Linked DNA regions of Homo sapiens: region 1 is linked to region 2. Evidence: fine-mapped expression QTL. A gene starts in region 2. The other region holds a variant in brackets. All regions are shown on one strand. Distances are between the middles of the regions. Region 1 overlaps ERFE (erythroferrone). Region 2 holds the start of HES6 (hes family bHLH transcription factor 6).

Evidence for each region.
Region 1: its variant is fine-mapped to the expression of HES6 in whole blood (TOPMed, PIP above 0.99).

What each region holds. Positions count from the first base shown.
Region 1 is chr2:238,161,193-238,176,986 of GRCh38, forward strand. ERFE (erythroferrone) reads left to right here. Exons shown (of 8, transcript NM_001291832.2): 2 at 402-524; 3 at 1,544-1,646; 4 at 2,545-2,807; 5 at 2,883-2,991; 6 at 3,078-3,168; 7 at 4,414-4,492; 8 at 5,764-7,698. The coding sequence ends at 5,862. ILKAP (ILK associated serine/threonine phosphatase) reads right to left here. Exons shown (of 12, transcript NM_030768.3): 10 at 12,342-12,461; 11 at 9,751-9,832; 12 at 9,210-9,484. The coding sequence ends at 9,344. Among named protein-coding and RNA genes, the nearest start is that of ERFE, 10 kb to the left of the region's middle. RefSeq lists an enhancer at 1,966-2,466. The variant T/C (reference allele first, on the strand shown) is at 8,304.
Region 2 is chr2:238,233,653-238,247,974 of GRCh38, forward strand. It overlaps HES6 (hes family bHLH transcription factor 6), which reads right to left and starts at 6,386. Exons shown (of 4, transcript NM_018645.6): 1 at 6,173-6,386; 2 at 6,009-6,095; 3 at 5,835-5,916; 4 at 4,615-5,599. The coding sequence starts at 6,253. The coding sequence ends at 5,175. It overlaps PER2 (period circadian regulator 2), which reads right to left. Exons shown (of 23, transcript NM_022817.3): 23 at 10,392-12,872. The coding sequence ends at 12,723. It also overlaps the pseudogene TARDBPP3. RefSeq lists enhancers at 590-1,091, 4,817-5,385, 7,286-7,791, 7,792-8,297, 12,496-13,695 and silencers at 792-921, 1,072-1,161, 6,109-6,628.

The sequences.
Region 1 (15,794 bases), 72 kb before region 2:
CACCTATGGGTGCTCCAGTGGTCGGATCCTCCTGGTGACTGGAGGACGGTGTGATCACTGCAGCTCCTCTGGAGGAAGGAGGCCCAGCAGTACGGGGATTCACCCCGATATCCAAGCCCTGCACCCCATTTTCCCTCCAGGCATCTTGGGTCTGCCTCTCCCATGAGTGCCAAGTCCAGGCCGAGGTGTGGCCCGTTCCCTAGGAGTCATCCTCCACGGGCCGGGGGAGAAGCTGTGAGGGGTTGGGGCCCCTTTGGGAGCTGCCTTTGAGGGCACCACAGGTGACAAGGACCAGGGTCCCAGAGTACAGAAGGCCACACAGTCACCTCCTGCAAAGTGTCCCACCTGCTTGGTAGGAGCCCAGTGAGGCCAACCGCCCTGCTGGGCTGGCTGTGTTCCAGGAGCCCACCGCTGAGCGTGCACACAGCGTCGACCCCCGGGACGCCTGGATGCTCTTCGTCAGGCAGAGTGACAAGGGTGTCAATGGCAAGAAGAGGAGCAGGGGCAAGGCCAAGAAGCTGAAGGTGAGGCCGGCATCCCGTCAGTGCCAGGCCGTGGGGGGTTCCGCCTCCTCGCTCCTCATCCACTCCCACTCCTACATCCTGAACATTTCCAATAGCACACCCCTCACGCCTCGGCCTGGGGACAGAGAACAGAGAGAACCCAGGCAGCCCCAGGGGGAGCCCCGAGTTAGGGGCCTGGTCCCAACCATTTCCCCACACCCCTAAAATGCCAGGCTCTCCCTCTTTTCTCCTCCCTCTGCATCCAGGCCAGGGAGGCTGGGCTAGCCCAGGCTGTGGTGAGAACCTTGTCCACACTGGAGGGGCCTGCAGGAGTGCCTGGCTCCCAGGGACTAGGGGCACAGGGTCCCTCTCACCCTCACTCAGCCTTAGGTCTTGGCCTGGGCAGAAACTTGGTGCTTGGTCCTGGTGCTGCCTCCTGCTTGGAGCCCCCAAAATGGAAAATACGGGGTGTGGGCTTCTCTGTCCCCTGGGGGCCAGTATCACCTGCCTGGGATCTGAACACACGATGGAAGGCCAGCTCGGAGTGCATGAGGCAGGTGCACAGGCCGCGCTGTCCTCGTGGCCTGGCCTTCTACCTCTGCCCAGCCTCCTGGCCCTGCCCTAAGCTTCTCCCCACAGGGGGCTCACTGGCTTCTGGTTCGGGTCCCAACCCAGCCTAGTGGGGACCTGCTGATGGTGGACTCGGGCCCAGTGCAGACCCTGAGATGCAAGTCCCCAAAAGCAGCCTAGAGTCTTCTTCCCTCCACGAGGCCTGGCCGCAGGAGCGGGCTTCAGCCCTCTGCCTCCCCACTCAGAGCAGAGTCCTTCCCTGCCAAAGCCCCGCCCCGAGGGCCCCCACCTCCAGCACAGTCCTTGTACTCACTCCAGGAGAAGCTTTCACTGAGGTAGATCCTTGGCTGGAGGTTGGAGCCCACTGGGGAGCTCTGTTGCCTGCCTCTTAGTGGCAAGAGCTTGCACAGGGGATGCTGTGGCTCCCAGCCTGCTCCTCACATGTCCTCACTGCCAAGGTTCCCTTTCAGTTCGGCTTGCCAGGGCCCCCTGGGCCTCCCGGTCCCCAGGGCCCCCCAGGCCCCATCATCCCACCCGAGGCGCTGCTGAAGGAGTTCCAGCTGCTGCTGAAAGGTAGGGGTGTGCACCGGCTGGGACACACACACCCCGCTGTGAGCAGGGCCTGGGAGGGTGTCCCGAGGAGCTGACAGGGCCAACCTCAACACTTCGGCGGGCACCCAAGGAGGCACCTGCTCTGGGCTGGACTCAAGGACAGTAGAGCTGGCCAGGTCCAGTCTCTGCCCCATCTTGGCCCATGTCTGCCAAGGGTCAGGGCTGGGGATGGCTGGGGGTTGGGAACCATGGCCAGGAGAAGGCTTCACAGAGGAAGGTGGACCTGGCCACTCAGTATGGCGGGTGCTCAGGGACCAGCGCCTATGCCCTGCCTGGAAGTCAGGAGAGCCCAGCGAAAGGCAGAGGCTAGTGTATGGGGCAGCACCAGGTGGAGCTCAGCCTGGCACCCACAGTCACCACTGGCCAGGGCTGGGGCAGCCTGCCCTGGAGGAGGCAGGGCTGAGTGGAGCCGCGGAGTCCACACTGAGGCCTCCTGCAGAGCGGCGGCTCACATTAGTCATTAGAATTGAGCCGTTTTTTCCTTTTAGTTCAATGTCCTGTTCGTTTAAATATAGCACCTTCTGCGCTGAAGAACCTCCTTGTACTTCCAGTAAAGCTGCAATCGCTTATTTTACCCCCAGCGTCTTTGGAAAATGTGGGTGGGGTAGAGGTGAGGCTGGAGGCCAAGGGCGCTGGGGCACTTCTGCCCGAGCTTCCCAAATCTTGAGGGAAACGGGAGCCGCTGCAGGGTCAGGACGCAAAGACTCCGAGGCCCTTCAGGCCGAGGGGACGTCGCCCTCGCCCCACCCCTGCGCCCGGCAGGCCCCTGGTCTCGCTAGCACCTGTCGTTCAGGGCTGGACCCACGCGGCGGGCGGGTGAGGGGTCCCTGGCGCGCGGCCACCGCTCGCTCTGTGCCAGGTGCGGTGCGGCAGCGGGAGCGCGCGGAGCCCGAACCCTGTACGTGTGGCCCCGCCGGGCCGGTCGCTGCGAGCCTCGCCCCGGTCTCGGCCACCGCCGGGGAGGACGACGACGACGTGGTGGGGGACGTGCTGGCACTGCTGGCCGCGCCCCTGGCCCCGGGGCCGCGGGCGCCGCGCGTGGAGGCCGCTTTCCTCTGCCGCCTGCGCCGGGACGCGTTGGTGGAGCGGCGCGCGCTGCACGAGCTTGGCGTCTACTACCTGGTGAGTGCCGGCGCGCGGGAGGGCGGGTGAGTCCGGCCGGGCGGGAGCCGGGGTGACCATCCGTGCCCCTCGCAGCCCGACGCCGAGGGTGCCTTCCGCCGCGGCCCGGGCCTGAACTTGACCAGCGGCCAGTACAGGGCGCCCGTGGCTGGCTTCTACGCTCTCGCCGCCACGCTGCACGTGGGTGAGGCCCGGGGCGTGGGAGGATCGCCCGCTCTGTCGCCCACCCCGCCGCCCGCCCGCTTGACCACGTCCCACCCTCCCCCGCAGCGCTCGGGGAGCCGCCGAGGAGGGGGCCGCCGCGCCCCCGGGACCACCTGCGCCTGCTCATCTGCATCCAGTCCCGGTGCCAGCGCAACGCGTGAGTGTACCCCGGCCCGGACCCCACACCCGCATTCGCTCGGCCTCCACAAGCTGGAGGTGGTTAAACAGGCACTGGACGGGGCTTCCGCCCGTTCACACCCCACCGTGGCCTAGGTGACCCCACACCTTCTTCCAGGTCTCCCGGTCTACTTCTGCCCCTATCAGGCCTTCCCTTCACAGCAACTGGGAGCTGTTAAAAATGACCTTTCCAGCTGGGCGCGGTGGCTCACGCCTGTAATCGCAGCACTTTGGGAGGCCGAGGCGGGCGGATCACGAGGTCAGGAGATCGAGACCATCCTGGCTAACATGGTGAAACCCCGTCTCTACTAAAAATACAAAAAATTACCCGGGCGTGGTGGGTGCCTGTAATCCCAGCTACTTGGGAGGCTGAGGCAGGAGAATGGCGTGAACCCGGGAGGCGGAGCTTGCAGTGAGCAGAGATAGCGCCACTGCACTCCAGCCTGGGCAACAGAGCGAGACTCCGTCTCAAAAAAACAAACAACAACAACAAAAAAAAACCTTTCCAGGCCACTCCCTGCCCAGACCTTCACCTCCTCCCCAGGTCCTAGGAGGCCGGGCTCCTCCTAGCCTCCCAACTCCTTCCCACCTCAGGGACTTTCATCTTGGGGCTCGAAGCACCAGTGTTACTTCAAGAGGCCTCTCCAGACAGCTTTCTGGAGGCCCCCTCCTCAGTCGCCCTCCCACTCCTCACCCGGGAACTTTCTTCCCCATGATCGCATCCCTTGCTCCTGCACCATCTGGCCCACGAGTGCAGTGACTGTGAGCTCCCTGTCTCCCCACACCCAGAAGGGAGCCCAGGTACAGCGGAGATACCCTGCGGGTAGGATAGCTGGAGCAGACTTGAATGAATGGATCAAGTCCAAAACTTCTTAGTCTGCCTTTGAACCCCCAGAGTGTGTTGGCCTGAACTAACTTAGCATCACCTGCCACCACATCCCCACTTCCGGCTGCATCAGCCAGTGTCCTGTTTCCCATCAGAGCCAGGGCTTTGCTGCCTCTTGCTGGGCCCTCGCCTTGCCTTTCCCAATACAGCAAGCATGCCTCTGGCCCTGTGTCCTTCCTCCTCTTGGGGACTCGGTTCAGACACCACCTCCACTGGAAGACCTGGCCAGGGTCAGGCACTTTGCTGGGCATGTGTTGGCTGCTGGCAGGATTGTGTGTCGTAGGTGAAGTTGGTGGGGTCTCATGGGGCAGGCTGACCCTCCCTCTGTTTTGGGTACAGCTCCCTGGAGGCCATCATGGGCCTGGAGAGCAGCAGTGAGCTCTTCACCATCTCTGTGAATGGCGTCCTGTACCTGCAGGTGAGTGCGGCAGGCTTGGGCATCGAGGGGCACCGCCTGGGCATGGCCACGGGTGGCTGGGTGCAGAAGGGTGCTGTTAGATGCTCAGGATCACTGGGTCGGGTGCAGCACCCTCAGACTCCAGGCCTGGGAGAGGGTCCAGGACATGCCAAGTTCTCACTTTGGTCTGGGCGCAGCCAGGCTTCAAGTCCTGATCTCCTTCCTCCAAACACAGCCCTTCCCCGAGGGCACCTGCCCGCTTGAGCAGCTGCTCCGCTCTGCATTCCCAATATTCAGACTCCCTGAGCACCTCATCCTGAGGCCCAGTACTCCTGGCCACCACAAGCCCGCTGAAGGGACTGGTGCAGGGAGGGAATGGAGGCCAGCACTCTGCCCAGGCTGACGCCCTGAGTCCCCTGTGACTATGGGAAGCCAGATACGTTATTTTCCTACCCAAAACCCTAAGTGACCATCTCTGGCACTGTGGGAATTTTGGCAAGTGGTAGAGAAATGGACATAAAGGTGGAATTTACTAACAAAGAAAACAATTGAGTGCAGGTGTGTGGAATAACAGCTGCTATTGAATTCTCCCAGAGCTTTGGAGAAGGTAGAGCTACTCCCCGAGTTAGCCCAAGTTCACACAGCAGAGCCAGAAATGGAGGCCAGGCTGTCTGGCCCAGAGTCTGTGCTTGCTGAAAGGCATTTAGAGGTCCCTTCTGGGTGCCACACAGCATGCTTGGTGAACTCAGATGGTCTCTGCCCCACCTGGATCTTAAGATGCAGATCCTGAGGCAGGTCTGGGTGGATCCCAGATTCTGCATTTCTGGGAGTTCCCAGGGAATGTGACACTGCTGGTGCATGACCACGCTGCTGGTGCATGACCACGTTTGGAGCAGCCAGGCTAGAGTGCTGGTTTCACGGAAGGCTCTGCCAAATGACTGCCTGTGGGGAAGGGCCACCCTCCCACCTGACTTGGAGCCCTTGCAGGCTCTGAGAAGCCCTGCAGCTGAGAAACCTGTTGGACTCTTGAATCCCACTCTGGCCTTGAGCAGGGGCCCACTCCCACACACGCGAACTGTAGGGCGCTGCAGGGAAAGCAGAAGAGGTGCTGGGTGGGGCCCAACCCGTGCGGGCCCTTGCTCTGTGACCTTGGCGGCCACATTCTTCTCTGGGCCTGAGCCCTTCCCAAAAGCGGGGCTGAGTGGGCAGGAGGGAGTGTGGCTGGCTGGCCCTTGGGTCACCTCTGCAGGCTGTTGGGGTGGCCCAGTGCCTCAAAGGCACCCTCCTTGCAGATGGGGCAGTGGACCTCCGTGTTCTTGGACAACGCCAGCGGCTGCTCCCTCACAGTGCGCAGTGGCTCCCACTTCAGTGCTGTCCTCCTGGGCGTGTGAGCGGCCACCACAGGCCCTTCCTCTCAGGGGCAAATGGAGCACAGATCTAGACAATGTGTGGACAGTGTCAGAGTAGCAGTGGCCACATGGAGGAGGAGGCCCACCCGGAACTCTGCCCACACTGGCCACTGCAGTTCAGCCCACAGAGCCACTGCAGGCAGGCCTACGGACGTGACACGCACGCTGGTGGTCCCGGAGCCAGGGTTGATTCAGGACACCATCTTGGGCTCTTATCCAGGAAAGAAAGAGTCGGCGTGCCTGGGGGCACCTGCTAGTCTCCAGCTGCAGGCCGACTCTTTCCTGGCCTGCTCAGCACCTGCCCAGATGGCCTCTGCGTCTTTCCTGTGCCCAGCCCCACCTTTTCCACCTCTCTTCATGTTCTCATGGAGTGCAAAGTGCACCAGCCAGGGCCCCTACCTGGGAGAGGGTCAGCTGACGCAGGGCTGAGGGGGCTGCCACAGGGACGTACGCTGTGTGTTCTTACTGCTTAGAAGGGACGGGGTCACTCACCACTCCCCTGGTCTCCATCTGGGCTCCTTGGTCTTCCCTGCCCCTCCCCTAACCGTGTTCTACCTGCCAGTGGAGCTGAGCACTGCCTAGCCTGGGCCAGAGGGGCACTGGACAAGGGCCTTTGGGGGACAGTAAGTCTGGGCCCAGCTTCTAGTTCTAATGTGTGCAAGATTAACTCACAAATTCACCTCAGAAGGCCTTTCCAAATGGGAGCTCCACTCTTCCCCTCCTCTGCAAATCTTCACAGCCAAGGCCCCTTCCACCCTCTCCAGAGGTGGATGAGATCCCTTTTCCCCTCCCCTCTGAGGTGCTGACTCACTGGTAGGAGCCACCCACCAGAGGAAAGATCTAGAACGTCTTTACAGATTGGAGACAGCCGGGCCTGCTGACCCATCATCCGAATAGCTGAAGCAGAGTCTTCCACCAGGGGTGCCAGGGCCTGGCTGGGTCCAGCGGCTCTGGGATGAGCCTCCCAAGCATCTTTCCCACTTGGGTGGCCATGCGGCGCTGACATTGGACAGGTGGTGGACGAGAGATGGTCCCGAGAAAGGGTGGTCTTGGGAGGGCTGGTCCCAAGCCTGCTGTGCTCCTGTGGCAGTGATGGGGCCTGGGGATGGGGACGGCAGCTCTCATGAGGACACACAGGCTGTGAGCCCGCAGCCTCCTCAAATGTAGCCTCCCACATTTTCCCCAAAGTACAGGACTGTCCCAGAGTAGGTAGTGAAGAGGACAAGGCCCTCGGCAGCGACCTCCAGGGCCTCCTACCTGCTGAGGAAGAGTTAACCCACTGCCTCCCCACACAACAGGCTACGAAGAACCTGGTGCCTCAGGACCTCCTGGGAGCCAAGCTGGTCTGGCAAGGGCGCTCAGGCCTGGGAGAGAAGGGAGCAATGGCCAGTCACCTTCACCTTCTAACTAACTAGCCTCCGGATGAGGTGGCTGCCACCAGGCCCGAATGATCCCCAGGAGCCCAGCTTCCAAACCCCAACATCGAATCAAACATCTCCATCCCCAAGTGCAGTAACACACAAAAACCAAACACTCTGCCCTGGGAAAGGCCTGGTGCGATTCTCAGTAGGACTCACACCCACCCTACCTAGAAGTACTGGGCTGGCCTGGGTACTGCATCCGTGTGTTTTGATAAGGGGGTGATGTGGCCACGCCCTTATCTAGATTTCACTTTGTATCCACTGGGCACAGATATTCTAGAGAACTTATCTTTCACTCTTGTAAAAGCCACATATCCACATCTCTTTCATTTTTCTCAGTGTGTTATGCAGCAATTTATTAAAGTATTTATTGTCTAATAAATACTGCCAAGTGGAATATATTTATATAACTGACTTCGTGGGGTGGTTCAAGTACTTACTTAAGAACTATGTGACACAACAGTTACAAAACAAAAGGCAGACCTTAAGATCCGGAATCAATCCTTTAGCCCAGGTTCACTAAACTAAGCACAGTAAGGAGGAACCTGGAAGGTGAAGTGGAGATGGCCTCCAGCCTCTACGTGGGAGGGACTCCCTTGAAGGCTGGGAGTGAACCTTCCTGGGAAACTAGGGTCAAGCCTCTCGGGAACAGTGGGACATAGGGATGTATGAGTCACAGACATCAGTGTGCAAACACCTGGTTTGCTATAGGAAGATAGTTACCAAATGAATGGTTCTATTTCCTGATTCTGGGGTGCCAGGGCTCTTTTCTTCAATGAGGCCACACTGTACAATGTCCCAGTCCTCAAACTGAAATGGGTACTTGGCTCTTAAAACTCCCTGGGGAAGGAAGGGGCAGCACCAACACTTCGTTCAGTTCTTACTTGTGGCTTTTACACAACAGACCCCCAGGAGGCATCTAAGGTTTACATGAAGCCTTTACCACTGAGGTCCTCGCAGCATGGATACCAATTCCACTCAATCAACTGGGTGATAAAACCA[T/C]GTGTGTGTGTTGGGTGGGGGCCAGGGAACATTACAAAACAGATTCTGAAAACGCAAATTTTTAGAATCTTACATCATCCTGAGCCAAACATTTACACAAAAGGATCCAAGAGCTGCTTTACTAAAAACTACTTACAGTCATAATGATGACGTTTTCTATATAAACAAGTGCTTGAAAAGTATTTTAAAGCTTATTCTTCTGAGCTTATTATTCTTCATGCACTCTTTTCATGCTTTTAACATCTTTAACAGAAGTGTCCCCCTTTGAGGTGTTATTGCAAAGATTAACCTCATTCCAGCACAGGGCCAACTCCCCACACCTACCTCACGTGGGAAGCAGAATTTCCGGGCCATGCTGAGCAGCCGGCTGCCTGCTCCAACAGGAAGGTGCACACCTACACCCAGGGAGTCCAGATGGAAGCCACTGAACCGAGTCCTCCACAGACTCCTTCCACCAGACTGCAGCTCTCACCAATGGAATGAGAATGGCTAATTCTGTACTGTTTCTGGCAGGTCTGATGCATGAGTAACCTTGTCTATGAGTCTATTTCCTGGCTAAGCCTGAGCTCATGCTATGTAACATTTTGCAACACTATTTCCATAGGGAAAACTGAAAAGAGCTAGAGGGTTCCCAAAGCCCTGGTCTGGGCCTAGCCTTGACTAACCAGTCATCCCCTGGGTCTCTTCATTGCAACATGCCACTTCCCCAACCAGGGTCATCATGACAGTGAAAGCACAGCAAAATGCCCGTGAACTACAAAACATCACACAACCAGCAGCCTGCAGGCCACTACGAGCCAGTCCAAGATGCCTATAATGGTTTTAACAAGGAAAGACAGCATATTCAAAAGCAAACACAATCTCTGAAGGGTCAAGAGGTGCTCACAGTATAATAACTCAAAAGACTAGGAAAAAAAAAGAGAAACCTTTATTTACAACCATGGGAGTCCCACAGGAGTACACAAAACACACAATGTGCACACACACAAAATGAACCTTTTAAGTCAATACCATGCGTGCTCCTGGCCGCGCGCCACCCCTCAGTGCCCTATCCGCACCACCATCACAGTGACGTTGTCGGCCGAGCCCCGCTGCACCGCCTTGTTGGCCAGCCTGTTGCAGGCTGCTTCGTAGCGGGCGTCGGCTGCGGACTTCCCTTCCCGGGTCTGGATCTTTTCATCCTACCAGATGAGAAAGGGAATGAGTGAATGGAGTGACCCCGCACCCTGTCACTTTCCTGAGACATGACTGCCAGGAAGAAGAGCTGCTCTGGTCTCCATCAGGGCTGGCAGGACAAACTGACCAGTGAGTCAGTAGGCAGAGTTCACACTGAAAAAGGGCACAAGGGCTGTCCCACAATGGGAGGAAATGGGGTCTCAGAACTTCTACTTCTCTGAAAACTAAGACACAATTGGGACAACCACCACCCCCGTGTGAGATTTCTCACCTCGAGACAGGACAAGATGAAGTTCACGGCTTCTTCTGGGGTAAAGACCTTGAAGAGCCCATCACAGGCCAACAAAATGAACCTACAACACCAGGGAGAAATATAAACGGGTTTTAGGCCCAACCAAAAAATAAAAAATAAAAAAAGGGCCTGGAGATGGAGATAAAATAAATATTTGTCCAACTATTCAAAGGCTAAGGTTTTTTTTTTCTTTTTTCTTTTTTTTTTTTTTTTGAGATGGAGTTTCACTCTTGTTGCCCAGGCTGGAGTGCAATGACGCAATCTTGGCTCACTGCAACCTCCACCTTCCCAGTTTAAGCTGTTCTCCTGCCTCAGCCTCCTGAGTAGCTGGGATTACAGGTGCCCGGCACCACGCCCGGGTAATTTTTTGTATTTTTAGTAGAGACAGGGTTTCACCACGTTGGCCAGGCTGGTCTCAAACTCCTAACCTCAGGTGATTCACCTGCCTCAGCCTCCCAAAGTGCTGGGATTACAGGCATGAGCCACAGCGCCTGGCCAGGCTAAGATTTGTTTAAACCCACTTAATTTCTGAGACAAAGGTTTAAACTACTTACAAGTATTTGTGGATAGGATGTTATACATCAAAACTGAGACTATCCTTCTCTTCGCCAATTAACAGAATTATTAATTACCTCAAACATTAGGTGCTGTACTTTCTTAGGCAAACTCCAGAAAAATCACTGAATAAAAACATGGGTGTTATGGTAAATATACAAGAATTTATAACACCATAGGCCTTACACCACTTCCAGACATAAAGCTGAGAATGAGCCCAGCCTCGGTGAAACATCCTTGGGCACACACTGCACAGCTTGGGGCTGCATCCAAGACCGAGGCCCAAGAAGGGGCAGCTGTGCGTGTTCCTGTGTTTGAAAACCACATGCTCTCCCTTTCAGAATCAAACCCCCCTAGACCGTCCCTGGAATCTTTCTGAACACCAATGGATTCAATGTGACAGTTCTAGTTTTCCTGGCATTGGGGGTGGGGAATACGCATCCCCACAGCTTTGCGGTATAAGCCACCCTCCTTTTCTCACTGTAATATCTGTGGGGTTTTTTTGTGTTTTTTTTTCTTTGTTTTTTGTTGCTGCTGCTGCTGTTGTTGTTGAGGCGGACTTTCCCTCTTGTTGCCCAGGCTGGAGAGCAATGGCATGATCTCGCTCACTGTAACCTCCGCCTCCCAGGTTCAAGTGATTCTCCTGCCTCAGCCTCCTGAGTAGCTGGGATTACAGGCGCCCACCACCACGCCTGGCTAATTTTTGTATTTTTGGTAGAGATGAGGTTTTGCCATGTTGGCCAGGCTGGCCTCAAACTCCTGACCACAGGTGATCCACCTGCCTCCGCCTCCCAAAGTGTTGGGATTACAGGCGTGAGCCACCACACCCAGCCTGTTTTCCTCGTTTAACTAGGCTTTCACTCGGCCGCTACTTGCCGAGCCTATCGTCCATGCTGAGAACACCGTGGGGCCTAGTCCTGGCAGGCTCCCACCCCTTCCAGTGTCCTGAGACTCAGACCCTCAATAACCAATCACACAGACCCATGACTACAACCCAGGAAGGCGAGCTAGGAAGCAAAGCAGAAGGTGCATCCTTCAGAACACCAGAGGCGGCGGCTGCTGGAGAGATGATGGAGGACCCCGCGGTACGTGAGAACATGACAAACACACTGAAGAAGATGTGGAGAATGGGGCAGTGGCTCAAGACAAGGCCAAGCAGGCGAGTGCCAAAGCAAGGCACGCGCTCTTCATCCGCAGCACTGGGGCGGGACTCAGAGCAGCACTCGGAGGCCCACTCGCCACAGTGCCACTAGTGTCTCTGGCCTCCCCTCATCAACTCAGTGCTGTGAATCCTGCTTCCGGGAGCTTTCCTTGACCCCTCCTGCTACTGCCTTAGTTCAGCCCTTCATCATCAGGCCAGGGCTGCTGCACCGCTGCTCACAGGCCTCCCTAGCCCCATAATGCCATCTTTAACCATCACCTGTTGAGGCCCTGCCCTCAGCCAGCACGGTGCCGTACCCTTAGGCATGGAGAACAGGAGATGAACAGGTGAACTGTCTCTTTCTCAACCGATCCTGGCTCTGTGTAAAAACCTATGATTCTCCACCAATGATCAACTAAAGTTCAAACTCTCCAGCATGGGGCTGAGGGCCGGCCCTTCAGGATCTGCCCCCAAAGTACCCTGCTATCACTTTCCCACCACTCCCTCCGTCCCTCAAGCGCCTGTCTGGCCATGCTTTCACACTGTCACATTTTAATGCCTTACTGTGTGTTCCCTCTGCCAGGAAGCCCCTTCTCCTCTCTCTGACAGGGATAACCCCTTCCCCTACTGCCAAAGACCCCAGCACACAGCACATGCCTAGGACACACTGGACTGCAGCTGCCCATCCCCATGTGTCCCCCCCTACCACTGTGGACCCCACCAGAGCAGAAACCACATTTTGTTTATCTCTGCACCCCCAGGGCCTAGCACCATGCACACCTTCCCTCCAACAAAGGCTTGATAGAAACTGGAAGTGAGGAAGAGAAATAAACCCACATGCACACACACCTGTGCCTCTTATAGGGCCTTTTACCTGTCATTGGGGGTCAGCTGGCAGCGTCTGATGTCGGGCACAGAGGTGACACCGCAGCGCTTGTACTGCCCGTCCCCAATGGAGCGTGACACCTCTAGCACGCCCAAAACACGCCCATCCCTAAAATGAGAGGAAAAACATTTCAGACTCTACCTGACAGATTATGGGTCCACAGTACTTAGAATCTCACCTTAAAAGCAGAGAATGGAAGTGTGAAAGATACAGACTGTGGAATTCACATTATTAACCACTACTGACATTTCTTGATCTCAAATATGCAGGGGTGTCTAGGCCATTAACTGCTGCCCTGGGGTAGGGACCCTGCCCAGCTGCACATGGGTGGGAACAGCACCTCCAGTGGCTGCCAAGCAGTGCTGCCCAGCTTAACCTTCGACAGGACTCAGCAGTTCTCATCACACACCTAGGTCCCAACTCCAGAATCGGATTTGACTGACTGGGTAAGGGAGCCTGGCAGTGTTTTGTATCTTAAAGCTCCTTGAGTGTTTCCCACATGCAGCCAGGGTTAACAATAGCTAGAACAGAGGGATATTTTGCATTTCAATCTAATTAGATTTGGAAAATCCCTGAAAGTGGCTATTCCTGGATTGTGGAGCACATGTCCTTTGCATCAAGTACAGGTACGGTTTAATGTTAATGTAAATGACAGTATCCTGCATAGCATCATAGTTTCACCCATTCTATTTTAGGTGAGGGGATATGGAGGAGATGGGGCAGTGATCTACAAATGGGAAGAGACATCTAAGGGACAGTCCTATTGCCAAGGAAAAACCATTTGGGGAAGCCTACTGCCCCAAAGAACAATTCTGGTCTAGGCTGCAGCACTGTCACCTTAGGCAGCTGCAAGCTCTCTCCCCTTCAGGCCCTTGTTTGTAAAGGCAAGGCAGAGAACCATACTCAACGTGTGAGAGAGCACTCCGCAAATGCCACGGCTGCGCATGGGCGTTTAAGATCACCACGGGGCTCCCAAATCATGGACCAAGCAAGTTCAGGAGATGCGGTGCAGATGGCTGCACATGGTAGGAAATGCTTCCTGGGCTGCTGTCCTAAAGGCAGAATTCAGCCTGGCCCTTCTCTGGGCCCCAGTTACCCTCTCAGTGGCTCACAGGTCAGTATCCGTAACAAACATGTTTTTTCTTCTTCAAAGACTTCTGCTGGTATCTGCAAAAAGCCTAGCGATCTTCTAGGATACAAACTGTTAAATAGCAAGAGGAAACAGTGCACAGGGGAAGAGCTGAGGACTGAAGATGGGTGGGGGCACCTGGCCTTAAGAGTGCCACTTCAGGAAGCAGCTCACAGTGTAAGTACTATGAAAAGCCAACAAAGTACCTCTCCCATGACCAGGTGACTGGGTGTCTGGTGTGGCTTCCGGCCATCCCAGTCATAAATCCATCCTGTTTCAACAAGATTAAGATTACAATCACCACGTCTGCAATGGCAGGTCCCAGAAGACCAAGTAGCTACCAGCAACTTCTGGTACTGCACAACACAGTACAGACAATGTGAAACAATCTCTAAGTCTAAAGAAGGACAATATGAGCAGCACAGGAACTGCCATCTCTCATTCTCTCTTTTTTTTTTTAAGAGACAGGGTCTCCCTCTGTTGCCCAGGCTGGAGGGCAGTGGTGCAATCACTCGCTGGGCTCAAGTGATCCTCCCACCTCAGCCTCCTGAGTAGCTAGAACTACAGGTGTCACCAAGTCCAGGTAAATAAAAAAAAAATTTTTTTTGTACAGATGGGGTGTTGCCCAGGCTGGTCCTTAAACAATTAGCCTCAAGCAGTCCTCCCACCTCAGCCTCCCAAAGTGCTGAGATTACAGGCGTAATGTGGCCTCATTCTTGTTTTCAAAGTTCCATATACAGAGTAGTAATCTTACATTCACTGAACTGCTAGAGTAACAGGAGAAAGCACAATGGACAGAATGACAGATCCCAGGAAACGCGTTTGGTAACGATGAGGCAAGCTGCCCTGGCACTATGCCTACACTCAATGCGATGTCCTACGTAGGATGTGCACATTCAAATACCTGTCAGTTCAACAAAGGCCAATCACAGAGTCCCATCTCTGAGATCGAGCATCACACAAGGGTAAATCCATGCCACCTCTGTTCTGGAAACTTTGGTACAAGTTCAAAAGGATCACCACTGATGAAGCTGGTTGGGACTCAGCCCCACCAGCCCCACAGGCTTCGTCCTTCCCAGTCTGCTTTATCCATTTCACCGGAACTCTTTTTTGTTTTTAAGAGAAAAGGTCCTGCTATGTTGCCCAGACTGGAGTGCAGTGGCTATTCACAGACATGGTGGCGCATTATAGCTTCAAGCTCCTGGACTCAAATGATCCTCCTGCCTCAGCCTCCAAGTGGCTGGGACTACAGGCGCATGCCACCAATACATACTCTATCCACATCCATTTCTTAGAAAGTCTGCGCTACTCTAGACACAATAGAAAGCTGTCTGTTTCACAGCAGGTTCTCCCCGTTGCCCAGTTTTCAAAGTTCAAACAAACTGCCCAAAGTTCATTCTCTTTCCCCTTCCCTCAGTTTCCCCCCCACCCTCATAATTACAATGCTTAGCAAGTAGTGGCTTTTTTTTTTTTTTTTGAGACAGAGTCTCACTCTATTGCCCAGGCTGGAGTGCAGTGGCATGATCTCGACTCACTGCAACCTCTGCCGCCTGGGTTCAAGTGATCCTCCTGCCTCAACCTCCCGAGTAGCTGGGATTACAGGTGCCTGCCACCGTGCCAGCTAATTTTTTTATTTTTAGTAGAGATGGGGTTTCACCATCCTGGCCAGGCTGGTCTTGAACTCCTGACCTCGTGATCCACCCGCCTTGGCCCCCCAAAGTGCTGGGATTACAGGCGTGAGCCACCACGCCTGGCCAAGTAGTGGCATTTTAAGTCTCAGCCTACCAAGCCAATCTGCCTGTCCCTTGGTACCAGCCCTCATTAGGACTGGCCTCCTGCCCTTACACACTTCCAACTTTTGCTTTGTGCTGCTTTATTTCTCTTCTCTGTTTTCTGCCAACCAGAAAACTGTTTTCCTACTGTTGGACAAGCTGTTCAACAGTGTCTTCAGATCTTAGCTAGTTTTGTTGATATTTTCTGTTCTTTCTCCAGAGAGAGAGAGAGAGACTGGGTGAGACTGAGACATCCTACTACTTGTGTGTTTAAGGCTAATCTGGCTGCTAAAGGCAGCTGGAAGCTGCTTGGTCTTCAGCTCCTCTTGCATGTCAGTAAAAGCAAGACACAGCTGGTCTCAATAAACAGACTATCCACAAGTGATGTTTGCAAAGTTAAGGTTGGGAGGTGGAAGCTCCATCTCCTGACCATCCAAAGACTGGTGGATGCCTAAATCCAACATATTAATACAATGAGTGCTACAGAGATAACCAAAGGTACAATGCTAGAACAGTTACTTTTGGTTATCAGAGGCCTGC
Region 2 (14,322 bases):
TTTTTATCTGCTACTCTTTATTTCATAGAGTCGTATCAACGCTGTGAACGCAAGGCTGTGATATGGAACTAGAAGGCTGTTTGAACTTTTGAAACCTTGTGTGGGATTGACGGTGGTGCTGAGGCATGAAAGGCTAGTATGAGTGAGAAAAGGAGAGAGCACGTGCAGAGACTTGGTGGTGCATAACGGATATTTTTTAACTTGGCGAGATGTGTTTCTCAATCCTGCGGCTTTGGTGACAGTGTGCAGACAGCAATGATAGCAAATAATGTACGAATGTTTTTTGCATTCAAAGGACATCCACATCTGTTGGAAGACTTTGAGTTTTTGTTCTTAGATAACCCACTTTATTTGAATGTGTTAAGTGAAATGATACTTGTACTCCCCCTACCCCTTTGTCAACTGCTGTGAATGCTGTATGGTGTGTGTTCTCTTCTGTTACTGATATGTAAGTGTGGCAATGTGAACTGAAGCTGATGGGCTGAGAACATGGACTGAGCTTGTGGTGTGCTTTGCAGGAGGACTTGGAAGCAGAGTTCAGCAGTGAACTCTGGTGTCTCAAAGAAGGGTAGAAGTTCTAATGTCTGTTAGCTACCCATAAGAATGCTGTTTGCTGCAGTTCTGTGTCCTGTGCTTGGATGCTTTTTATAAGAGTTGTCATTGTTGGAAATTCTTAAATAAAACTGATTTAAAAAAAAAAAACCAAAAATCTAAGTAAAGGGGTCGGAACTACATCTCCCAGGAGGCCCCGCGGCTCGCCTCTGGCGGGGCGGGGCTGGAGGGGGCGTGGTCAAGGCCTCGGCTCCTCCGAGCGCCTCCCAGCTCACGGCGCCCCCCGAACCCGGCTCCAAGGGACTCGGTATTCCCCAGCGCCGGCTCCGGGCAGTCCCGGAAGGGCTCAAGGGCTGGGCGACTGGCTGATCGAGACCGTCCGGGTCCTGGCTCTCGGGTCACTTGCAGAGGCCTGAGCAGAGCGTAGGGAGGGCTGGAAGGGAGGAGCCCCGGGGGGCGGCGGTGCTGAACCGGGTAGAGTCTTGAAGGTCACGGTCAGGACTGGAGTGGGAGGGGAGTCAGAGGCCTGCTGCGGAGGCCCAGGTTAGAAACGAGGCTGCCTTGGACTCGGTCGGTGGCAAAGAAGACGACACGTGGAGGCAGGGCTTAGAAGTAGAGCTCCGCCGGGCTTGGTGGCTCACGCCTGTAATCCCAGCACTTTGGGAGGCCTAGGCGGGCAGATCACGAGGTCAGGCGATCGAGACCATCCTGGCTAACACGGTGAAACCCCGTCTCTACTAAAAATAGAAAAAATTAGCCGAGCGTGGTGGCTGGCGCCTGTAGTCCCAGCTACTTGGGAGGCTGAGGCAGGAGAATTGCTTGAACCCAGGAGGCGGAGGTTGCAGTGAGCCTAGATCTCCCCCACTGCACTCCAGCCTGGGCGACAGAGTGAGACTCCGTCTCAAAATAATAATAATAATAATAAATTAATAAATAAAAATAAAAAAGAAGAAGAAGTAGTGCTCATGGGCTTGACTGATAGGACGTGGGATGGCAGGAAGAGGGTGAACTTGAGGGTGACATCTAGATTTTTTTGCTCAATCCATGGGGTACCAAGAAGTGGTAATGCCTGAGGATCTGTTGTTTTGGTGGTGGTGTGAGCCCATCTGACATCTAAGTGCAGTCACTGAGTGGACAGGAGGATACAGAGGAGCCAGCCGCCTGGAGAGGGGCTTTGAATCAAGGGCATGGGATTGGCAAAACGGGCCAGATGGTGTCACTGGGTGTGGGGGCGGCAGGGAAGGCTGAGGACAGAGCCTTGGGAAGAACACGTCCAGTTGGAGGGCGGCAGGGAAGGCTGAGGACAGAGCCTTGGGAAGAACACGTCCAGTTGGAGGTCGGCAGGGAGGAGCATTGAGTACAGGGGACTGAGGATGGCCGATGAGGTAGAAAGAAGGCTGGTGTGGTGCCCTTGAGACTGGAGAAGGAGCCTCCAGATGGATGAGTCATAACCCACGAGAAGTGAAGCTGACATGCGGACATGCCCACTGGGTTGGGAAACATGCTCGTTACTAGAGATTTTGACTGTGCAGTTCCAGTGGAAGGGTGGACAATAGCTTGATTGGAAAGGAATGAAGAGGAATGGGATGCGTGGAAGTGGAGGCAGTAAGTGTAGATGACGCTTTCAAGGAATTTTGCTTTAGAGCATTGAGACAGAGGCTAACAGTATGTCACATCCAGGGAGGTTCTTCCGAGTAAAGGTATTCATATTACAGCCCGTTTGTAGGTTAATGAGAATGATCCAGAAGGGAGGAGAAGCTAATGGTGCAGTGGAGAGCAGAGTCCCTGAGCAGGTGAGCAGGGATGGGGGCCCATGCCCATGTCGGAAGCGGGCGCCACACTGCTTCATGATGGAAGGCAGAACGCCTGGGCCAGGGTGCAGGCAGGTGTCACAGAGAATGTCCTTCATGACCACATCCTAGTTCCCAGAACCTGCGAATATGCTACTTTACATGGCAAAAGGGAGTTTGCAAATGTGATTAAGAATTAAGCTAAAGACCTTCATACAGGGAGATTATCCTGGATTCTCCAGGGGGCTGGTGTCATCACAAGGATCTTTAAAAGTAGAAGTAAGGAGGAGACGTGACCAAGGAAGAAGGGTCAGAGAGACGCAATGCTTCCGAGGAACTCTGAGGATGGAGGAAGGGACCATCCTCCAAGGAATGTGGGTGGCCCCTGAATGAAGAGGCAGGAGAAGGCACACAGCCCTGCCTGCCAACACCTTGATCTTAGCCCAGTGAATCCTGACAGACTTCTAACCCGTGGAACTGCAAGACAATAATCGTGTGTTTGAAGCCACCAAGAGTGTGGTCGTTGGTTTTGGCAGCCATAGAAAAGTAATACAGTGGGTCAGGGATCCGGGTGGGAAGGAGACAGCCCTCAGAGAAGGGATCCGGGTGGGAAGGAGACAGCCCTTAGAGAAGGGATCCGGGTGGGAAGGAGACAGCCCTCAGAGAAGGGCTTGTGGGGAGCCTGGGGGTGCTGGGAGAGGAGCTGGTGTGAAACAACCAGCTGGCTGGGAAGCTGGTGGCCCCAGGCTGCACCGCAGGCAAGAGCAGCTCTCAGCCCCAGGAGGCCAACAGTGGTCACTGGTGTGGGAGCCAGTTACATTTCCAAAAGAAGCTGCACTTGAGGATTACTGTGAAGCTGACTTTAGGGCTGGAGGGGCACAGGGCCAGAGTTCTGGGTTAGTGGCTTCTGACTCTGGTCCTAGCAACGCTTTTACTCCAGGTCAGCCTCCTGCACCTTGCCTCCTGGGCTTCCCCTTGACCCCCTCCTAGGGCATCTGGGAAGGTGTGATGAGTGGACTTGAGAGGTGAAAGTTGTTCCTTTGAAGCAGTCCATGGCTGATGCTCCCTGAATGGCATGAGAGCTCATTGGCATGGCCTCTGGGTGCTACTGGAAACCAGGGCTTTCAGGATGGCCCGTTATCCATCCGTGTCCTGGTGGGTACATCCTACATCAGCCTGTCTGAGGACATTAAAATAATCCCAGGAATGATATTTCCATTGCTCAAGACTTCTTCTGTGGCACTGGCTCCCCCACTGCCCCAATAGCTCGGCTCCAGATGATAAAGCTGCATCTGGTTATAGCCCAATGGCTTCTATGATTGAATTGAGGTGAGCCAGAGTGAACCTCAAACTTTGAAACACCCCTGGTGGCCAGGACCTGCTTGGGGGCTTTTGTAAAGGGGCTGCTGGGAAAGGTGTTCTTAAGGCAAAAGCACATGTCCAGAGAGGAGACCCCGACGTCAATCCTAAGTTGTCACACCTTGGCCCTAGCCTGGGGACTGCCAACCCACAGTGAGAAGCTGCTGCTTTGGGGTCCTGGAGCAGGAGGAGGGGGCTAGGCTAACTGTGGCGGTGACTTCAGCCGGCTGACCACGTGCTATCTGCAGGTCTGGCCGAGCCCAAGAGGGCAGGCTCCCGCACCCCAGCTGCCCATCCTGCCACCCTCCATCCCTGAGGGTTCTGACCTCCTGGACCCAGTTTGACCTAACGCTCAAGCCCCCTGGGGCCTTGGCGCTTTCATTTCAGGCCACAAACTGGGTGGGTCTCCTTGACCCTGAAGTCAATGGCAGCAGTGGGGAAGTTCCTTCTTCAGTCAAGATAAGCAACAACCTCACACAAGTAGACTCATGTCTATGTCATGCTCGTGGGTCCTAAAACAGGTCTTTAAAAGATACTTTCAAACCAAATAGGTAGCAATTAGGCATTATTTTATTATTCCTGAAGCTCATGAACAAGAAAATGGCACAGAGACAGGTCATCTCCCTATTGCTGAGTTACCCTGGAGACAAGCCTCATGCAAACAAACTCCTTCTCCAGGACACACAATGCCCAAGAACAGGCTGGGTCTGAGGACCTGCCTAGCATGGGGGGCAGAAGCACTGCCTGCTGCAGAGACAGCCACGGAGTGCATCCCCACCACCATCACACTGCTCACTCTGCTGAGAAAGGGTGAGGTTTTAAAGGACATTCACCAGCCTCAGATGCAGGGGAAATGTGCTTAGTTTAGCATTTACATATCTTGACACAGTAATGACACATCACTCAACAATACTTCAAGGGTAACTAACTCCAAAATTCTTTATTTAGTAAAATTGTCACATTTGATGTCAATGGAATACACAAACTCAAGTGTGCTACAAACAAGATGTACAGAGCATCACAGCTCTGGGCAGTGCAGCTCAGTGCACCTGCCTCTCATCTCCCCGCTGAAGTGGCAAGTTCAAGCTTTTGTTTAGCCCAGGGCTGCCTGGAACACTAGTGCCCAGCACCATTTCTGCCACCTCTGCCCCCAGAGCCCGCACAGGGCTGGTGAAGCCTGGGTGGGTGAACCTGGGAGAGCGCTGGCAGCTCTACAAAATTCTTCCTCCTGCCCGTAGCTCCCTCCCTCCACCCACTCCAGAGCTGCAGGGTCCCTAAAAGTTTCTTAAGAAACGGGGCTGGGGCCTGACTGGGCTGGTTACCAGGGGCTGCCCTGCAAGCCATCCATCAGAGGAGGGAGGGAAGACCTGGGAGACTTCCAGGGCCCTACCCCACCACATCTGAACCCCTGGGAGGAGGGAGGAGATCCAGGGAGGGCCGGGCCCACCCCCGCAGGACTCTGGCTGGCATTGGTCACCAAGGCCTCCAGACACTCCGGGCAATTTGGGCTGTGGTCAGGCTGCCCAGGGCTGCGGGCACCAAGTCGGGCCCCTCAGCAGGAGCCTGACTCAGTTCAGCCTCAGGGGCCTCCTCCAGGTCGGAGCACAGGTCGTCCCCAGGACCCGGGGGGCTGGGTATTGGGGATCCCGGAGCGCCCCCCGCAGGCCAGCCACTCCGTCCAGGGGCTCTAGGTGGCCCCGCCAGGGCGTCCCCCAGCAGATCCTGGAAGCTGCTGCCCTCACGCAGCGGCATGGACTCGAGCAGATGGTTCAGGAGCTCGGCAGCGACGGTAGCGTCGATGGCCTGGCACGTGGACACGAACGTGTGCACCTCGTGCATGCACTGGATGTAGCCGGCAGCGAAGCGCTCGCTCGCTTCCGCCTGCAGCTGCTCGCGCTCTGGGCCCGAGGGTGGGAGGGAGAGAGCCGCGTCCCGCGCGGTGAGCGGCGACTGCGTGGCCCAGCCCACCCGGCCCGCGGGGACGCGGCTCACCCAGGAGACGCGGGGGCGCACCCTGCTCCGGTGGGAGCCCTCGCCGCCGACAGGACAGGGGCGCCGGGAGGGAAGTCCTCCGTCTGGCAGGGGTTACAGGCGCCCGCGGCCGGCGCCCCCGCCCGCCCCGCCGCCACTCACCGCGCGCCCGGCCCCGCAGCACACCCTGGACCCGCCGCACCGTCAGCTCCAGCACTTCGGCGTTCTCCAGCTTGGCCTGCACCTGCGCGGGCGGGAAGGGCGGTGAGCCGGCAGCGCGCTCCCGGACCCGCCCGCCCGCCCCGCAGCCCCACGGCGCCTGCCCGGCCGCCGCACCTCGGCGCCCGCCAGCAGCAGCCGCAGCTCCTGCAGGCTCTCGTTGATCCGCGCGCGCCGCTTCTTCTCCACCAGGGGCTTCCGGGCCTGCGGGGAGCGGGGCACTGAATCCCAGCCCCGCACGGCCTCCCGCCCGCTTGCTCGCCCATGGCCCCGGCCCGCACCTTGCGGTCCCCTCGCGTCTCCCAGCCGTCCTCATCCTCACGGCCCACACGGTCCCGGCCAGGCGCCGCGGGTGGCGCCATGCCCGCTCCGCCGGGGACGCGGCAGGGGCTAGGAGCAGCGGGGACGGGGAGCGGCGGGGACCGGAGTGCCGGCGCCCTCCGCTGCCCCGCGGCCGCCCAGCAGCAGCCCAGCCGTCCGCGCTCCTCGCGGCTTCCGGCCCGCCGCGGTCCCGCCCCTTTTATAGCCGCTTATTTGCATCTCAATGCGCCGATTGGCCGCGCGGGCCCGGGGCGGCCGACCGCGAGGCGCGCTGCAGCCAATCGGGGCAGCGCGCTTTGTCCGGCCCAGCGGCTCTGGCGGTCGGGCAGCTGGCTGAGCTAGGCGGGGCCCCCAGCCCGGCCTTCCCTAGACCCCCGCGGGGGCGGCACCGGGGCGGCGACCCCGGGTAGCTGCGGCCCTGCCCGCGCTTGTTTCTCTCCGTCTGCTGCTCTAGGACCACTGATCTGCCGCGCGTGCGAGCAGGCGTCCACCCGTCCGTCCGTCCGTCCGTCCACTCATTCATTCACCCATTAATTCATTCATTTCCCTCCTTCGCCGATGGCGCCTCCAGAGTTGAGCGCTGGGGCCACTGGCCCCAGGAGATGCGTCCCTGGTGTGCAGAGCCACAGTCAAGTCCGCGGTCTCTGGACCTAGAGGGGTTTCAGGTCCCGGCTGGGGTGGCTGCCAAGCCCCGGGGAGGCAGGGTCCATTGGGCAGCGGTGGCGGGGCGGCCCCTGAGTTTCTTCCGGACTCGTCCAGACGCCGGGCCGGACCCCCGACGCCGCCCTCCGCCAGCACTGGAGTCCTAGTGGGGCGGGGTCCCGGGTGCTCCCGCCCGCGCCGCTCTCCCCCTGGGCTCTGCGGGTCACCAGCCCCGCCCCCCTCTGAGCTCCCCCATCTCCCTCTAGTCCCCTTTGGCCCCCGGGGCCCCCTCCCTCCCTTCCACTGCCCCCCGCCCGCCTCCCTCCTCCCCTCCTCGTCCTCCGCGCCCCGCCTCCCAGGCCCGCCGAAGCTGCCGTCTGGTCCTGTAACTTGATGCCCGTGACAGTTGGCAGCTGCGGCCGCTTCGGCGGAGAAAAGCGAGAAAAGCGGCGGCCGCGCCAAGAGCGACAGGTGTTGGCCGCGCCTTTGTCTCGCACCCTTTGTCCGGCGGGCAGGCGGCGGGCGCTTGTCCCGGCCAGACGCCCGCGACTCCCCCATCGCGGCGGGCCGCCCATCTGCTGGGTTCCTCTTGGCCGCGGGCGGGGTGCGTGGGCGGTGGGGCCGCGCCCTCGGGCAGCGTCCTGGGGACCCCTGCCCGGCTCCTGCCCCGGCGTCAGTCCAGACGCTGTGTGGAGGAGCCGGAACGGGAGACGCCTTCTCGGACCCCAGCCGGCCGACTACCAGCCTGCCCCGCACAGCACCTGCCTTCCTCAGTCCCCACTACTCACCCGGGCTGGGATCGTCAGGGTCTGTTCTGAGCCCCTCCAGGCTATAAGCGTCCCTGGACAAGGGCACAGTCTGACCTAGGACCCCCTGTCCACCTCCCCGCACCCCCAGCAGAGCCTGGCCTCACAGAAGCGCTGGTAGGTAGGGAAGGTGAGGGGTGGCCCTGGCAGGATGGGCTGGAAGGCCGCGTGGGAGGGGAACATCACGGGACCGCAGCAGCTGAGCGGAGCGGCAGGACTAGGCTGCAGACCGACCGCCCCACTGCCCCTAGAGAGGTCTGACAGGCCTCCCATGGCCCCTTTACTTGCGCCTCTCCACCAGAGGGACCCCTGCAGGCTTCCTGCTGGGTGAGTTTGGTGAGAGGTTTGAAAGCTCCCAAAGTCACCTCACTGACCTCTGTAATTACCTGGGACCCCCTCCCGCTGGCTCCCAACTGTCCCTGCTCTGGCTCTTGGTTGCTCTATGAGCAGGGTCCTGAGACTTCCCCCAGCCCAGCATCACTCACCTGGGTGTGAAACTACCGCTTTACTTCACACACTCCCCACCTGCCCAGTAGTGGGGCTGGCAGGGTGGGGCTGGAGTGGTGGATCCCAAGGAAGTGGATTATTAGCCTGTGACTTTACTCTCCTTCACCACTTAGACATCACCCCAGGGAAGGAGAACCTCCACTCCCCCAAGTGGCTACAATGACATTTCCACTACTTCGAGAAACTGTGATAGGGAAAAATAAACTCACTGATATTTCCTGTACTCCCAAGTTTGCAAACTGATTTACACTCCTCTCATTATCCAAACGAACAAGGCCAAGTAGATGTTTTAGGATGCTCTCATCCTAAAACATCTGCTTTATGTTAGGCAATTTATATTGCAACAGGATGATCAGGGCCCCAAAAGAGGACTTTGGGTAAAGCCTGACTGAACACTTGATTGGATGGGGAACTGGATTTGAGGGGCAAGGAGGACATGATAAAGGCAAATGGTGCAAGCAAAAAAAAAGAAAGAAAAGCAACTAGGAACTCTAGGAAAAACAAAAAGCTTCCCAAGAAATGTAATCTTAGCACATTACTTGGCTCAGGAGACAATTTTCACAGTCACAACAATGTAACAGTGTTCATAGGGTTTTAACATTTAGAATTAATCTATACAGAAGGCAAGGAAGGATTGTTTATGGTTATGGGACATGATATAAAGTTGACCTTGTAAAAACAAAAGGACAGGTGATAGGAGTTATGAGAGAGGAGGCTAAAGGGAGGACTAGGGACCTCAAAAGCCTTGTCTGACAGTGGAGTGGGTGGAGGGTTGAGGAATGCTGTCTAGAGTTGAGGGAGGGAGAAATTAAGCACTGGGATATGCCTCGGTGTGACCAAGGATCCTACAGGGAAAAGAGCTTAAGTAGAGAAGGCTGTACATCAGCAAAATCCTTCTTGGTTGGACTGGAAGTTGCCCAAGGTCCCCTCTGCAAGGTCAGCTTCAATTCCCTTTAGCGGTGCACTGGCCAGCTGGCATGGCCTTTTTGTCCCAGAAGCCTGGCCTATCTTGAGGTCACCAAGCCCTCCCTCCCTCCTTCACAGCAGCCTCCCCTAGCCAACACTTCCTGCCATTTGTCCCTTGGGCCAGTCCTGCCTTCAAAGTTTGCCTGAGTATGGACTTCCTGAGCATTTGAGTCCTTTGATCCCCCTAGAGCCAGGAACAGAGGCCAGCAGAGGCTGGGCAGGGTGGTGGTTGCTGCGGGGATACCAGTTAGCAGTGGGGGTGGCAGGCCATAAATCCCTGGGGGAACAAAGGCAGCTGCGGCCTGTAGACTGTCCAGGCCCCTTGTGGGCAATCTGCCCAGGAGACTCAGAGAATCTCCGTTTGGTTTGGAAATAAATCCCTTGGGGTTATATGGTAAATAAAAATACAATTAAGAGTCTTCCAAAAGCACTCAGGTTCAGTGAAACAACCATATCTGGCCATTTAGAGCAGTTTGCAGAGGCCTCTGTGCTCGCTAGGGAGGACTTTGCCTTTTATCCCATCAGCACTTGGCGTTAGGCAGCCAGGCTAGCAGGCAGAGGAGAGCCCCTCCCTTCTGCTCAGGGAGCTTCTCAGAGGCTGGGCATTGGGTTCAGGATCCATTCAGCTCTCTGCTCCCACCCCCAGGGTCATGGTTTGAAGAGTGGGAGGGATGGGGAGCAACTCTTCGGGCTTCCACAGTTTTGGCCTCACAAGGCTTCATTCATCACTGTGAAAGAAGGGCTGGGGTCAGGGGACTATGCCGCCCTGCCCATATCATTCGCAATGGAGACATGTGACCTTCCTGGTGGAGCCTCCTGACCGCCCCACCTTTAGCCCTACCTAGCCCGATGACCAGAAGACAGGCAGCCAGCCTGGAAAGGCCAGGTAACCCAGGGCAGGGATGCAGGGAAGACAGAGGTGCGTGGAGGCAGAGCTGGGGGCACTCTGGGGCTGAGCCAGACAGCTGCACCCCTCCAACTAAAAGTGAAAAGACTGTGGGGCATGACACGATTAGGTTTGCATTACGTGAGTTCACTCCTGCAGCCTGAAGGAGGGTGTGTGTGTGACACGCACAGGAAGAAAGGGAGCCAGCAAGAAGCAAACGCTATAAGGGAGCTGACCGCCAGGAGGCCTTTGGGATGTAAGATTCTTTAATGCAGAATTCCTGGAGTTCTTTAAAAAAATTTTTTTTAAATAATCTTTGCTCTCTATTCAGGTTTTCCTTTGTGCTATGTGAAAAATACATACAAGTAAAAATAAAAATATACTTGCTTTATTTACCAATTTTCTAAAAGGCAAACAGGTCATAAAAAGACACAAGCAGTCAAACAAATCTATTGCACTGGGTAAAGAAAGTTTGGTTTGCACACAAACAAACCACTTGTCCAGCAAGGCTCAACAAATCATCACAGAAACTCTGAGAGCTTATTTACATATCTCTTCGGGAATATATTAAAAAGAAGGCTCAGTTTAAAATAGAGAAAAACTGTTTAACACCTGTGTAAGCACACACACTAAAGAAAACATGACTTGATGCTTGGCATCACGTAAACAAATTCACAAGATGATCCTATTAAGTCAACTGCTTGGCACGCGCTGAAGCTACAGTTAACAATCAGTGAGCACATATTAAATGATAAAATAATGCTGATGGTAAACATTCATAACAGCAGAGTAAGATTTTGGCAGTTTTGTGTTTCGGTAACATAACTGTAACCTTAGATGAACACCTATCCCTTCATGATCTGACTTTAGAGGCAAGGAGTTTGTAACATCTAATGGCCATAAGAATGCAGACTGCTACCTTATCATAGGCATAGGCAGCTGATGTTACTTTGTAAATTAACGAAAAATTAAAGTGTTCTTGTGTTTATGAAGAATAGGTTTAATAGTCAGGCATAAGATGGTTTTACGATGAAAACCTAGTGGATTACAAAGAGATTTCACCTCCATCAAAAAACAGAAAACCCTGGTCCCAGTTGGGCGTGGTGGCTCACGCCTGTAATCCCAGCACTTTGGGAGGCCGAGGTGGGTGGATCGCTTGAGGTCAGGAGTTCGAGACCAGCCTGGCCAACATGGTGAAACCCTGTCTCTACTAAAAATACAAAAAATTAGCTGGGTGTGGTGGCAGTCGCCTGTGGTCCCAGCTACTCAGGAGGCTGAGGCAGGAGAATCGCTTGAACCTGGGAGGCAGAGGTTGCAGTGAGCCAAGATGGCGCCACTGCACTCCAGCCTGGGCAAAAAGAAACTCCATCTAAAAAAAAAAAAAAAAAAAAAAAAAAAAGAAAACCCTGGTCCCTTTTAAGCCTCATAGTCTTGGTCCAATTTTAAGTCAACTGTTCTTCAGTGATAACTTTGAATTTCCACCAGGGACCAATATTAAATTTTCTGAACCATCTTTGGAATATACAATGCAACATGAGGTTTTGTAAAAAGCCGGGCAGACTGGCCTCACTTTTCCCCAAGTGTCCAAATGACCTAAAAGTGCTGGGGACACTGGCAGAGGCCTGAAGCTGCTCCGAGAGAGGTCGGGCTCATGAAAAGAATGAGGGCTGTGCACCCAACCCAGGGTGCAGTGGGAGAGGTGAGCTCACTGCACCCCTGAAAATACAGATGCAGTCGCAAGCTGTCAGACTGAGTGGCAGTGGCTGCTCTCGGCCAGGAGATGTGATGTGGGCTTGGCTGGGTGGAAGCAGATGTCTGGGTGGTTCCAACGGAAGAAAACCAAACAGGACTGGGTCTCACATGTGTTGGTCACAGCCTGGTTTGCAAAGGGAAGTCACCATAAAGAGATGACTGATGACATATTTTAATCTCCATATTGGCCATCATGGTCTGAAAAGGAGACAAGAATAATGCAGAAATATACAGAGGGTCTGTCTGCGTGTGCATTCATCCGATGGAGTTGGCCACACAAACCACTAGGCTTCTTTAGTCCAGAGCAAATGTTTCAACTTTGTTCACTACAAACAAAACCTATGTCAGACTGAAATATTGACCACACCAGAAGCCAAAGCTGTTGGTTTGCCAAACAACGCTTCACACCATTTAATGTGAAACGTTTTGAAATAAAACTAGGAGAGGCTGCTATCTCCATTTGGTATGTATAAAAAAACACTCTACCTTGACTAAATGATAATTCAGATAAAAAGCAGTCCCCAAGAGAGGACAAAATTTGATCTGATCCAAACACCCTGGGAAAGCTCTGGAAGCCAGAGTCCCCAGCTGGTGCAGCAGACAGAGGTCTCGTCACAGTCACAGGACTTCTGGGAGCACTGAGGCAACTTCCCTGACACTAAGAGGCGCTTAGTCTTTCTCAAGTTAAATAACAACTAAAATCTCTTCCCCATCCCACAAAACTCCACATATATATTTTATATATAAAAACATATTTCTTTCCGAACTCTCCCCACTCTCCACAGTTTTAAGTCGCCCCTTCAGAAAACTATGTTGTTTTTTTTTCTAAAACAAAAAAAGCAACATGAGCATATGTGTCCATTTCAGTGGAAACAGCCATGAAGATCTTTCATCTCTTCCAAGCACCACCTGGTGTACCTCGCTGGCTGCCGGGCTGAGGTGGGGCAGGGGTTACGTCTGCTCTTCGATCCTGTGATTCAAGGGGGATCCATTTTCGTCTTCTTTGGTGTCCGACACTTCGCTGAGTCCCAGAGAAGGAATATCTTCCTCATATGGTATGCAAATATTACCTTTTTCCTTGTTTTCACAGTAAACACATTCCTTAAAAGAAAAAAAAAGAGAAATCAGTAACAAACTTGAGATCTGAGTTGTTACAAAAGTCATTCAAATTGGCCGGGCGCGGTGGCTCACGCCTGTAATCCCAGCACTTTGGGAGGCCGAGGCGGGCAGATCACGACGTCAGGAGATCGAGACCTTCCTGGCTAACACGGTGAAATCCCATCTCTACTAATAATACAAAAAATTAGCTGGGCGTGGTGGCAGGCACCTGTAGTCCCAGCTACTTGGGAGGCTGAGGCAGAAGAATCGCTTGAACCCTGGAGGCAGAGCTTGCAGTGAGCGGAGATCACGCTACTGTGCTCCAGCCTGGGCGACAGAGTGAGACTCTGTCTCAAAAGATAAAAAGTCATTCAAACTGAGTAAGGTGCAGGTGACCAGGTGTCAGCCAGGAGGTGGCTGGCAGCAAAGGCCAAAATCCCTGTCCCAGGAGCTGGCACTCTAGTAGCAGAGAGAGACAATAACTAAGAAGGGCTCCAGAGGCATAGGGTATATAGAGGACATCTGTGATTTTCAACTGGACATTCACAGCAGGCCAAAGAAAAGGTGACGCAATGATTTTGAAACGTGTCCACACTCTTTGCCACTCCTTCCTCAAAAGGTGGGGCCTAATTCCTTTCTCCTTAAACCTTGGCTGGACTTAGGCATTTGCCTCTAACAAAGAGTACCTGACTTCTGATTCTAGGTCCTAAAAGGCACCTTGGCTTCCTCTTTTCCTCTCTGGGGAAGTCACCTGCTACACTGTGAGGACATCCAGGCAGCCCTACGGAGAGGTCCCCATGGCAAGGAGCTGAGGCCTCTGCCAAGAGCCAGCAGTGTGTGAGAGGCCTGCAAGTGAGGCTCCTGGAAGCCGGTCCTCCAGCTGGCAGGTGACAGAAGCCCCCACCAGTATCTTACCGTCAACATCAGGAACGACCCTGAGCTAGAAGTACCCAGCTAAGCCGCTCTCAAATTCCTGACCCAAAGAGACCGTGCAAGGTAATACAAGTTCATTGTTGAAGTCACTAAGCGTTGGGGCCATCTGCCATGCAGCAGCAGATTACTAATGCAGCAGCGGGTGGAAAACAGACTCTAAGGCAGCCAGGGTGAGCCACGGGTCTATTTCAGGAAAAAGGATTCCAAGCAAAGGGCTGGGCATGTGCGAAGATCCTGTGGCAGGGGCCTGCCAGGGCAGTCGGGGAAACAGCCAAGGGGCCAGTGTAGCTGGAGAGGAGGGAAGGAGAGGAAAAATGGGAGATGAGGTAGAAGATGTGGATAGGTGGTCAGATGTGTATGGCTTTGCAACCATTTATTCTGATTGAGGTGGCACAGTGCTGGCAGGAATCTGAACTGTCACCGGAGGTGACACAGGGAGCAGTGAGTGCAGCTTCGAGGCCACTCTGACATCCAGGGTTCATGCCATGGAAGCATCCTCATGGCTTGGACCTGTGTGGTG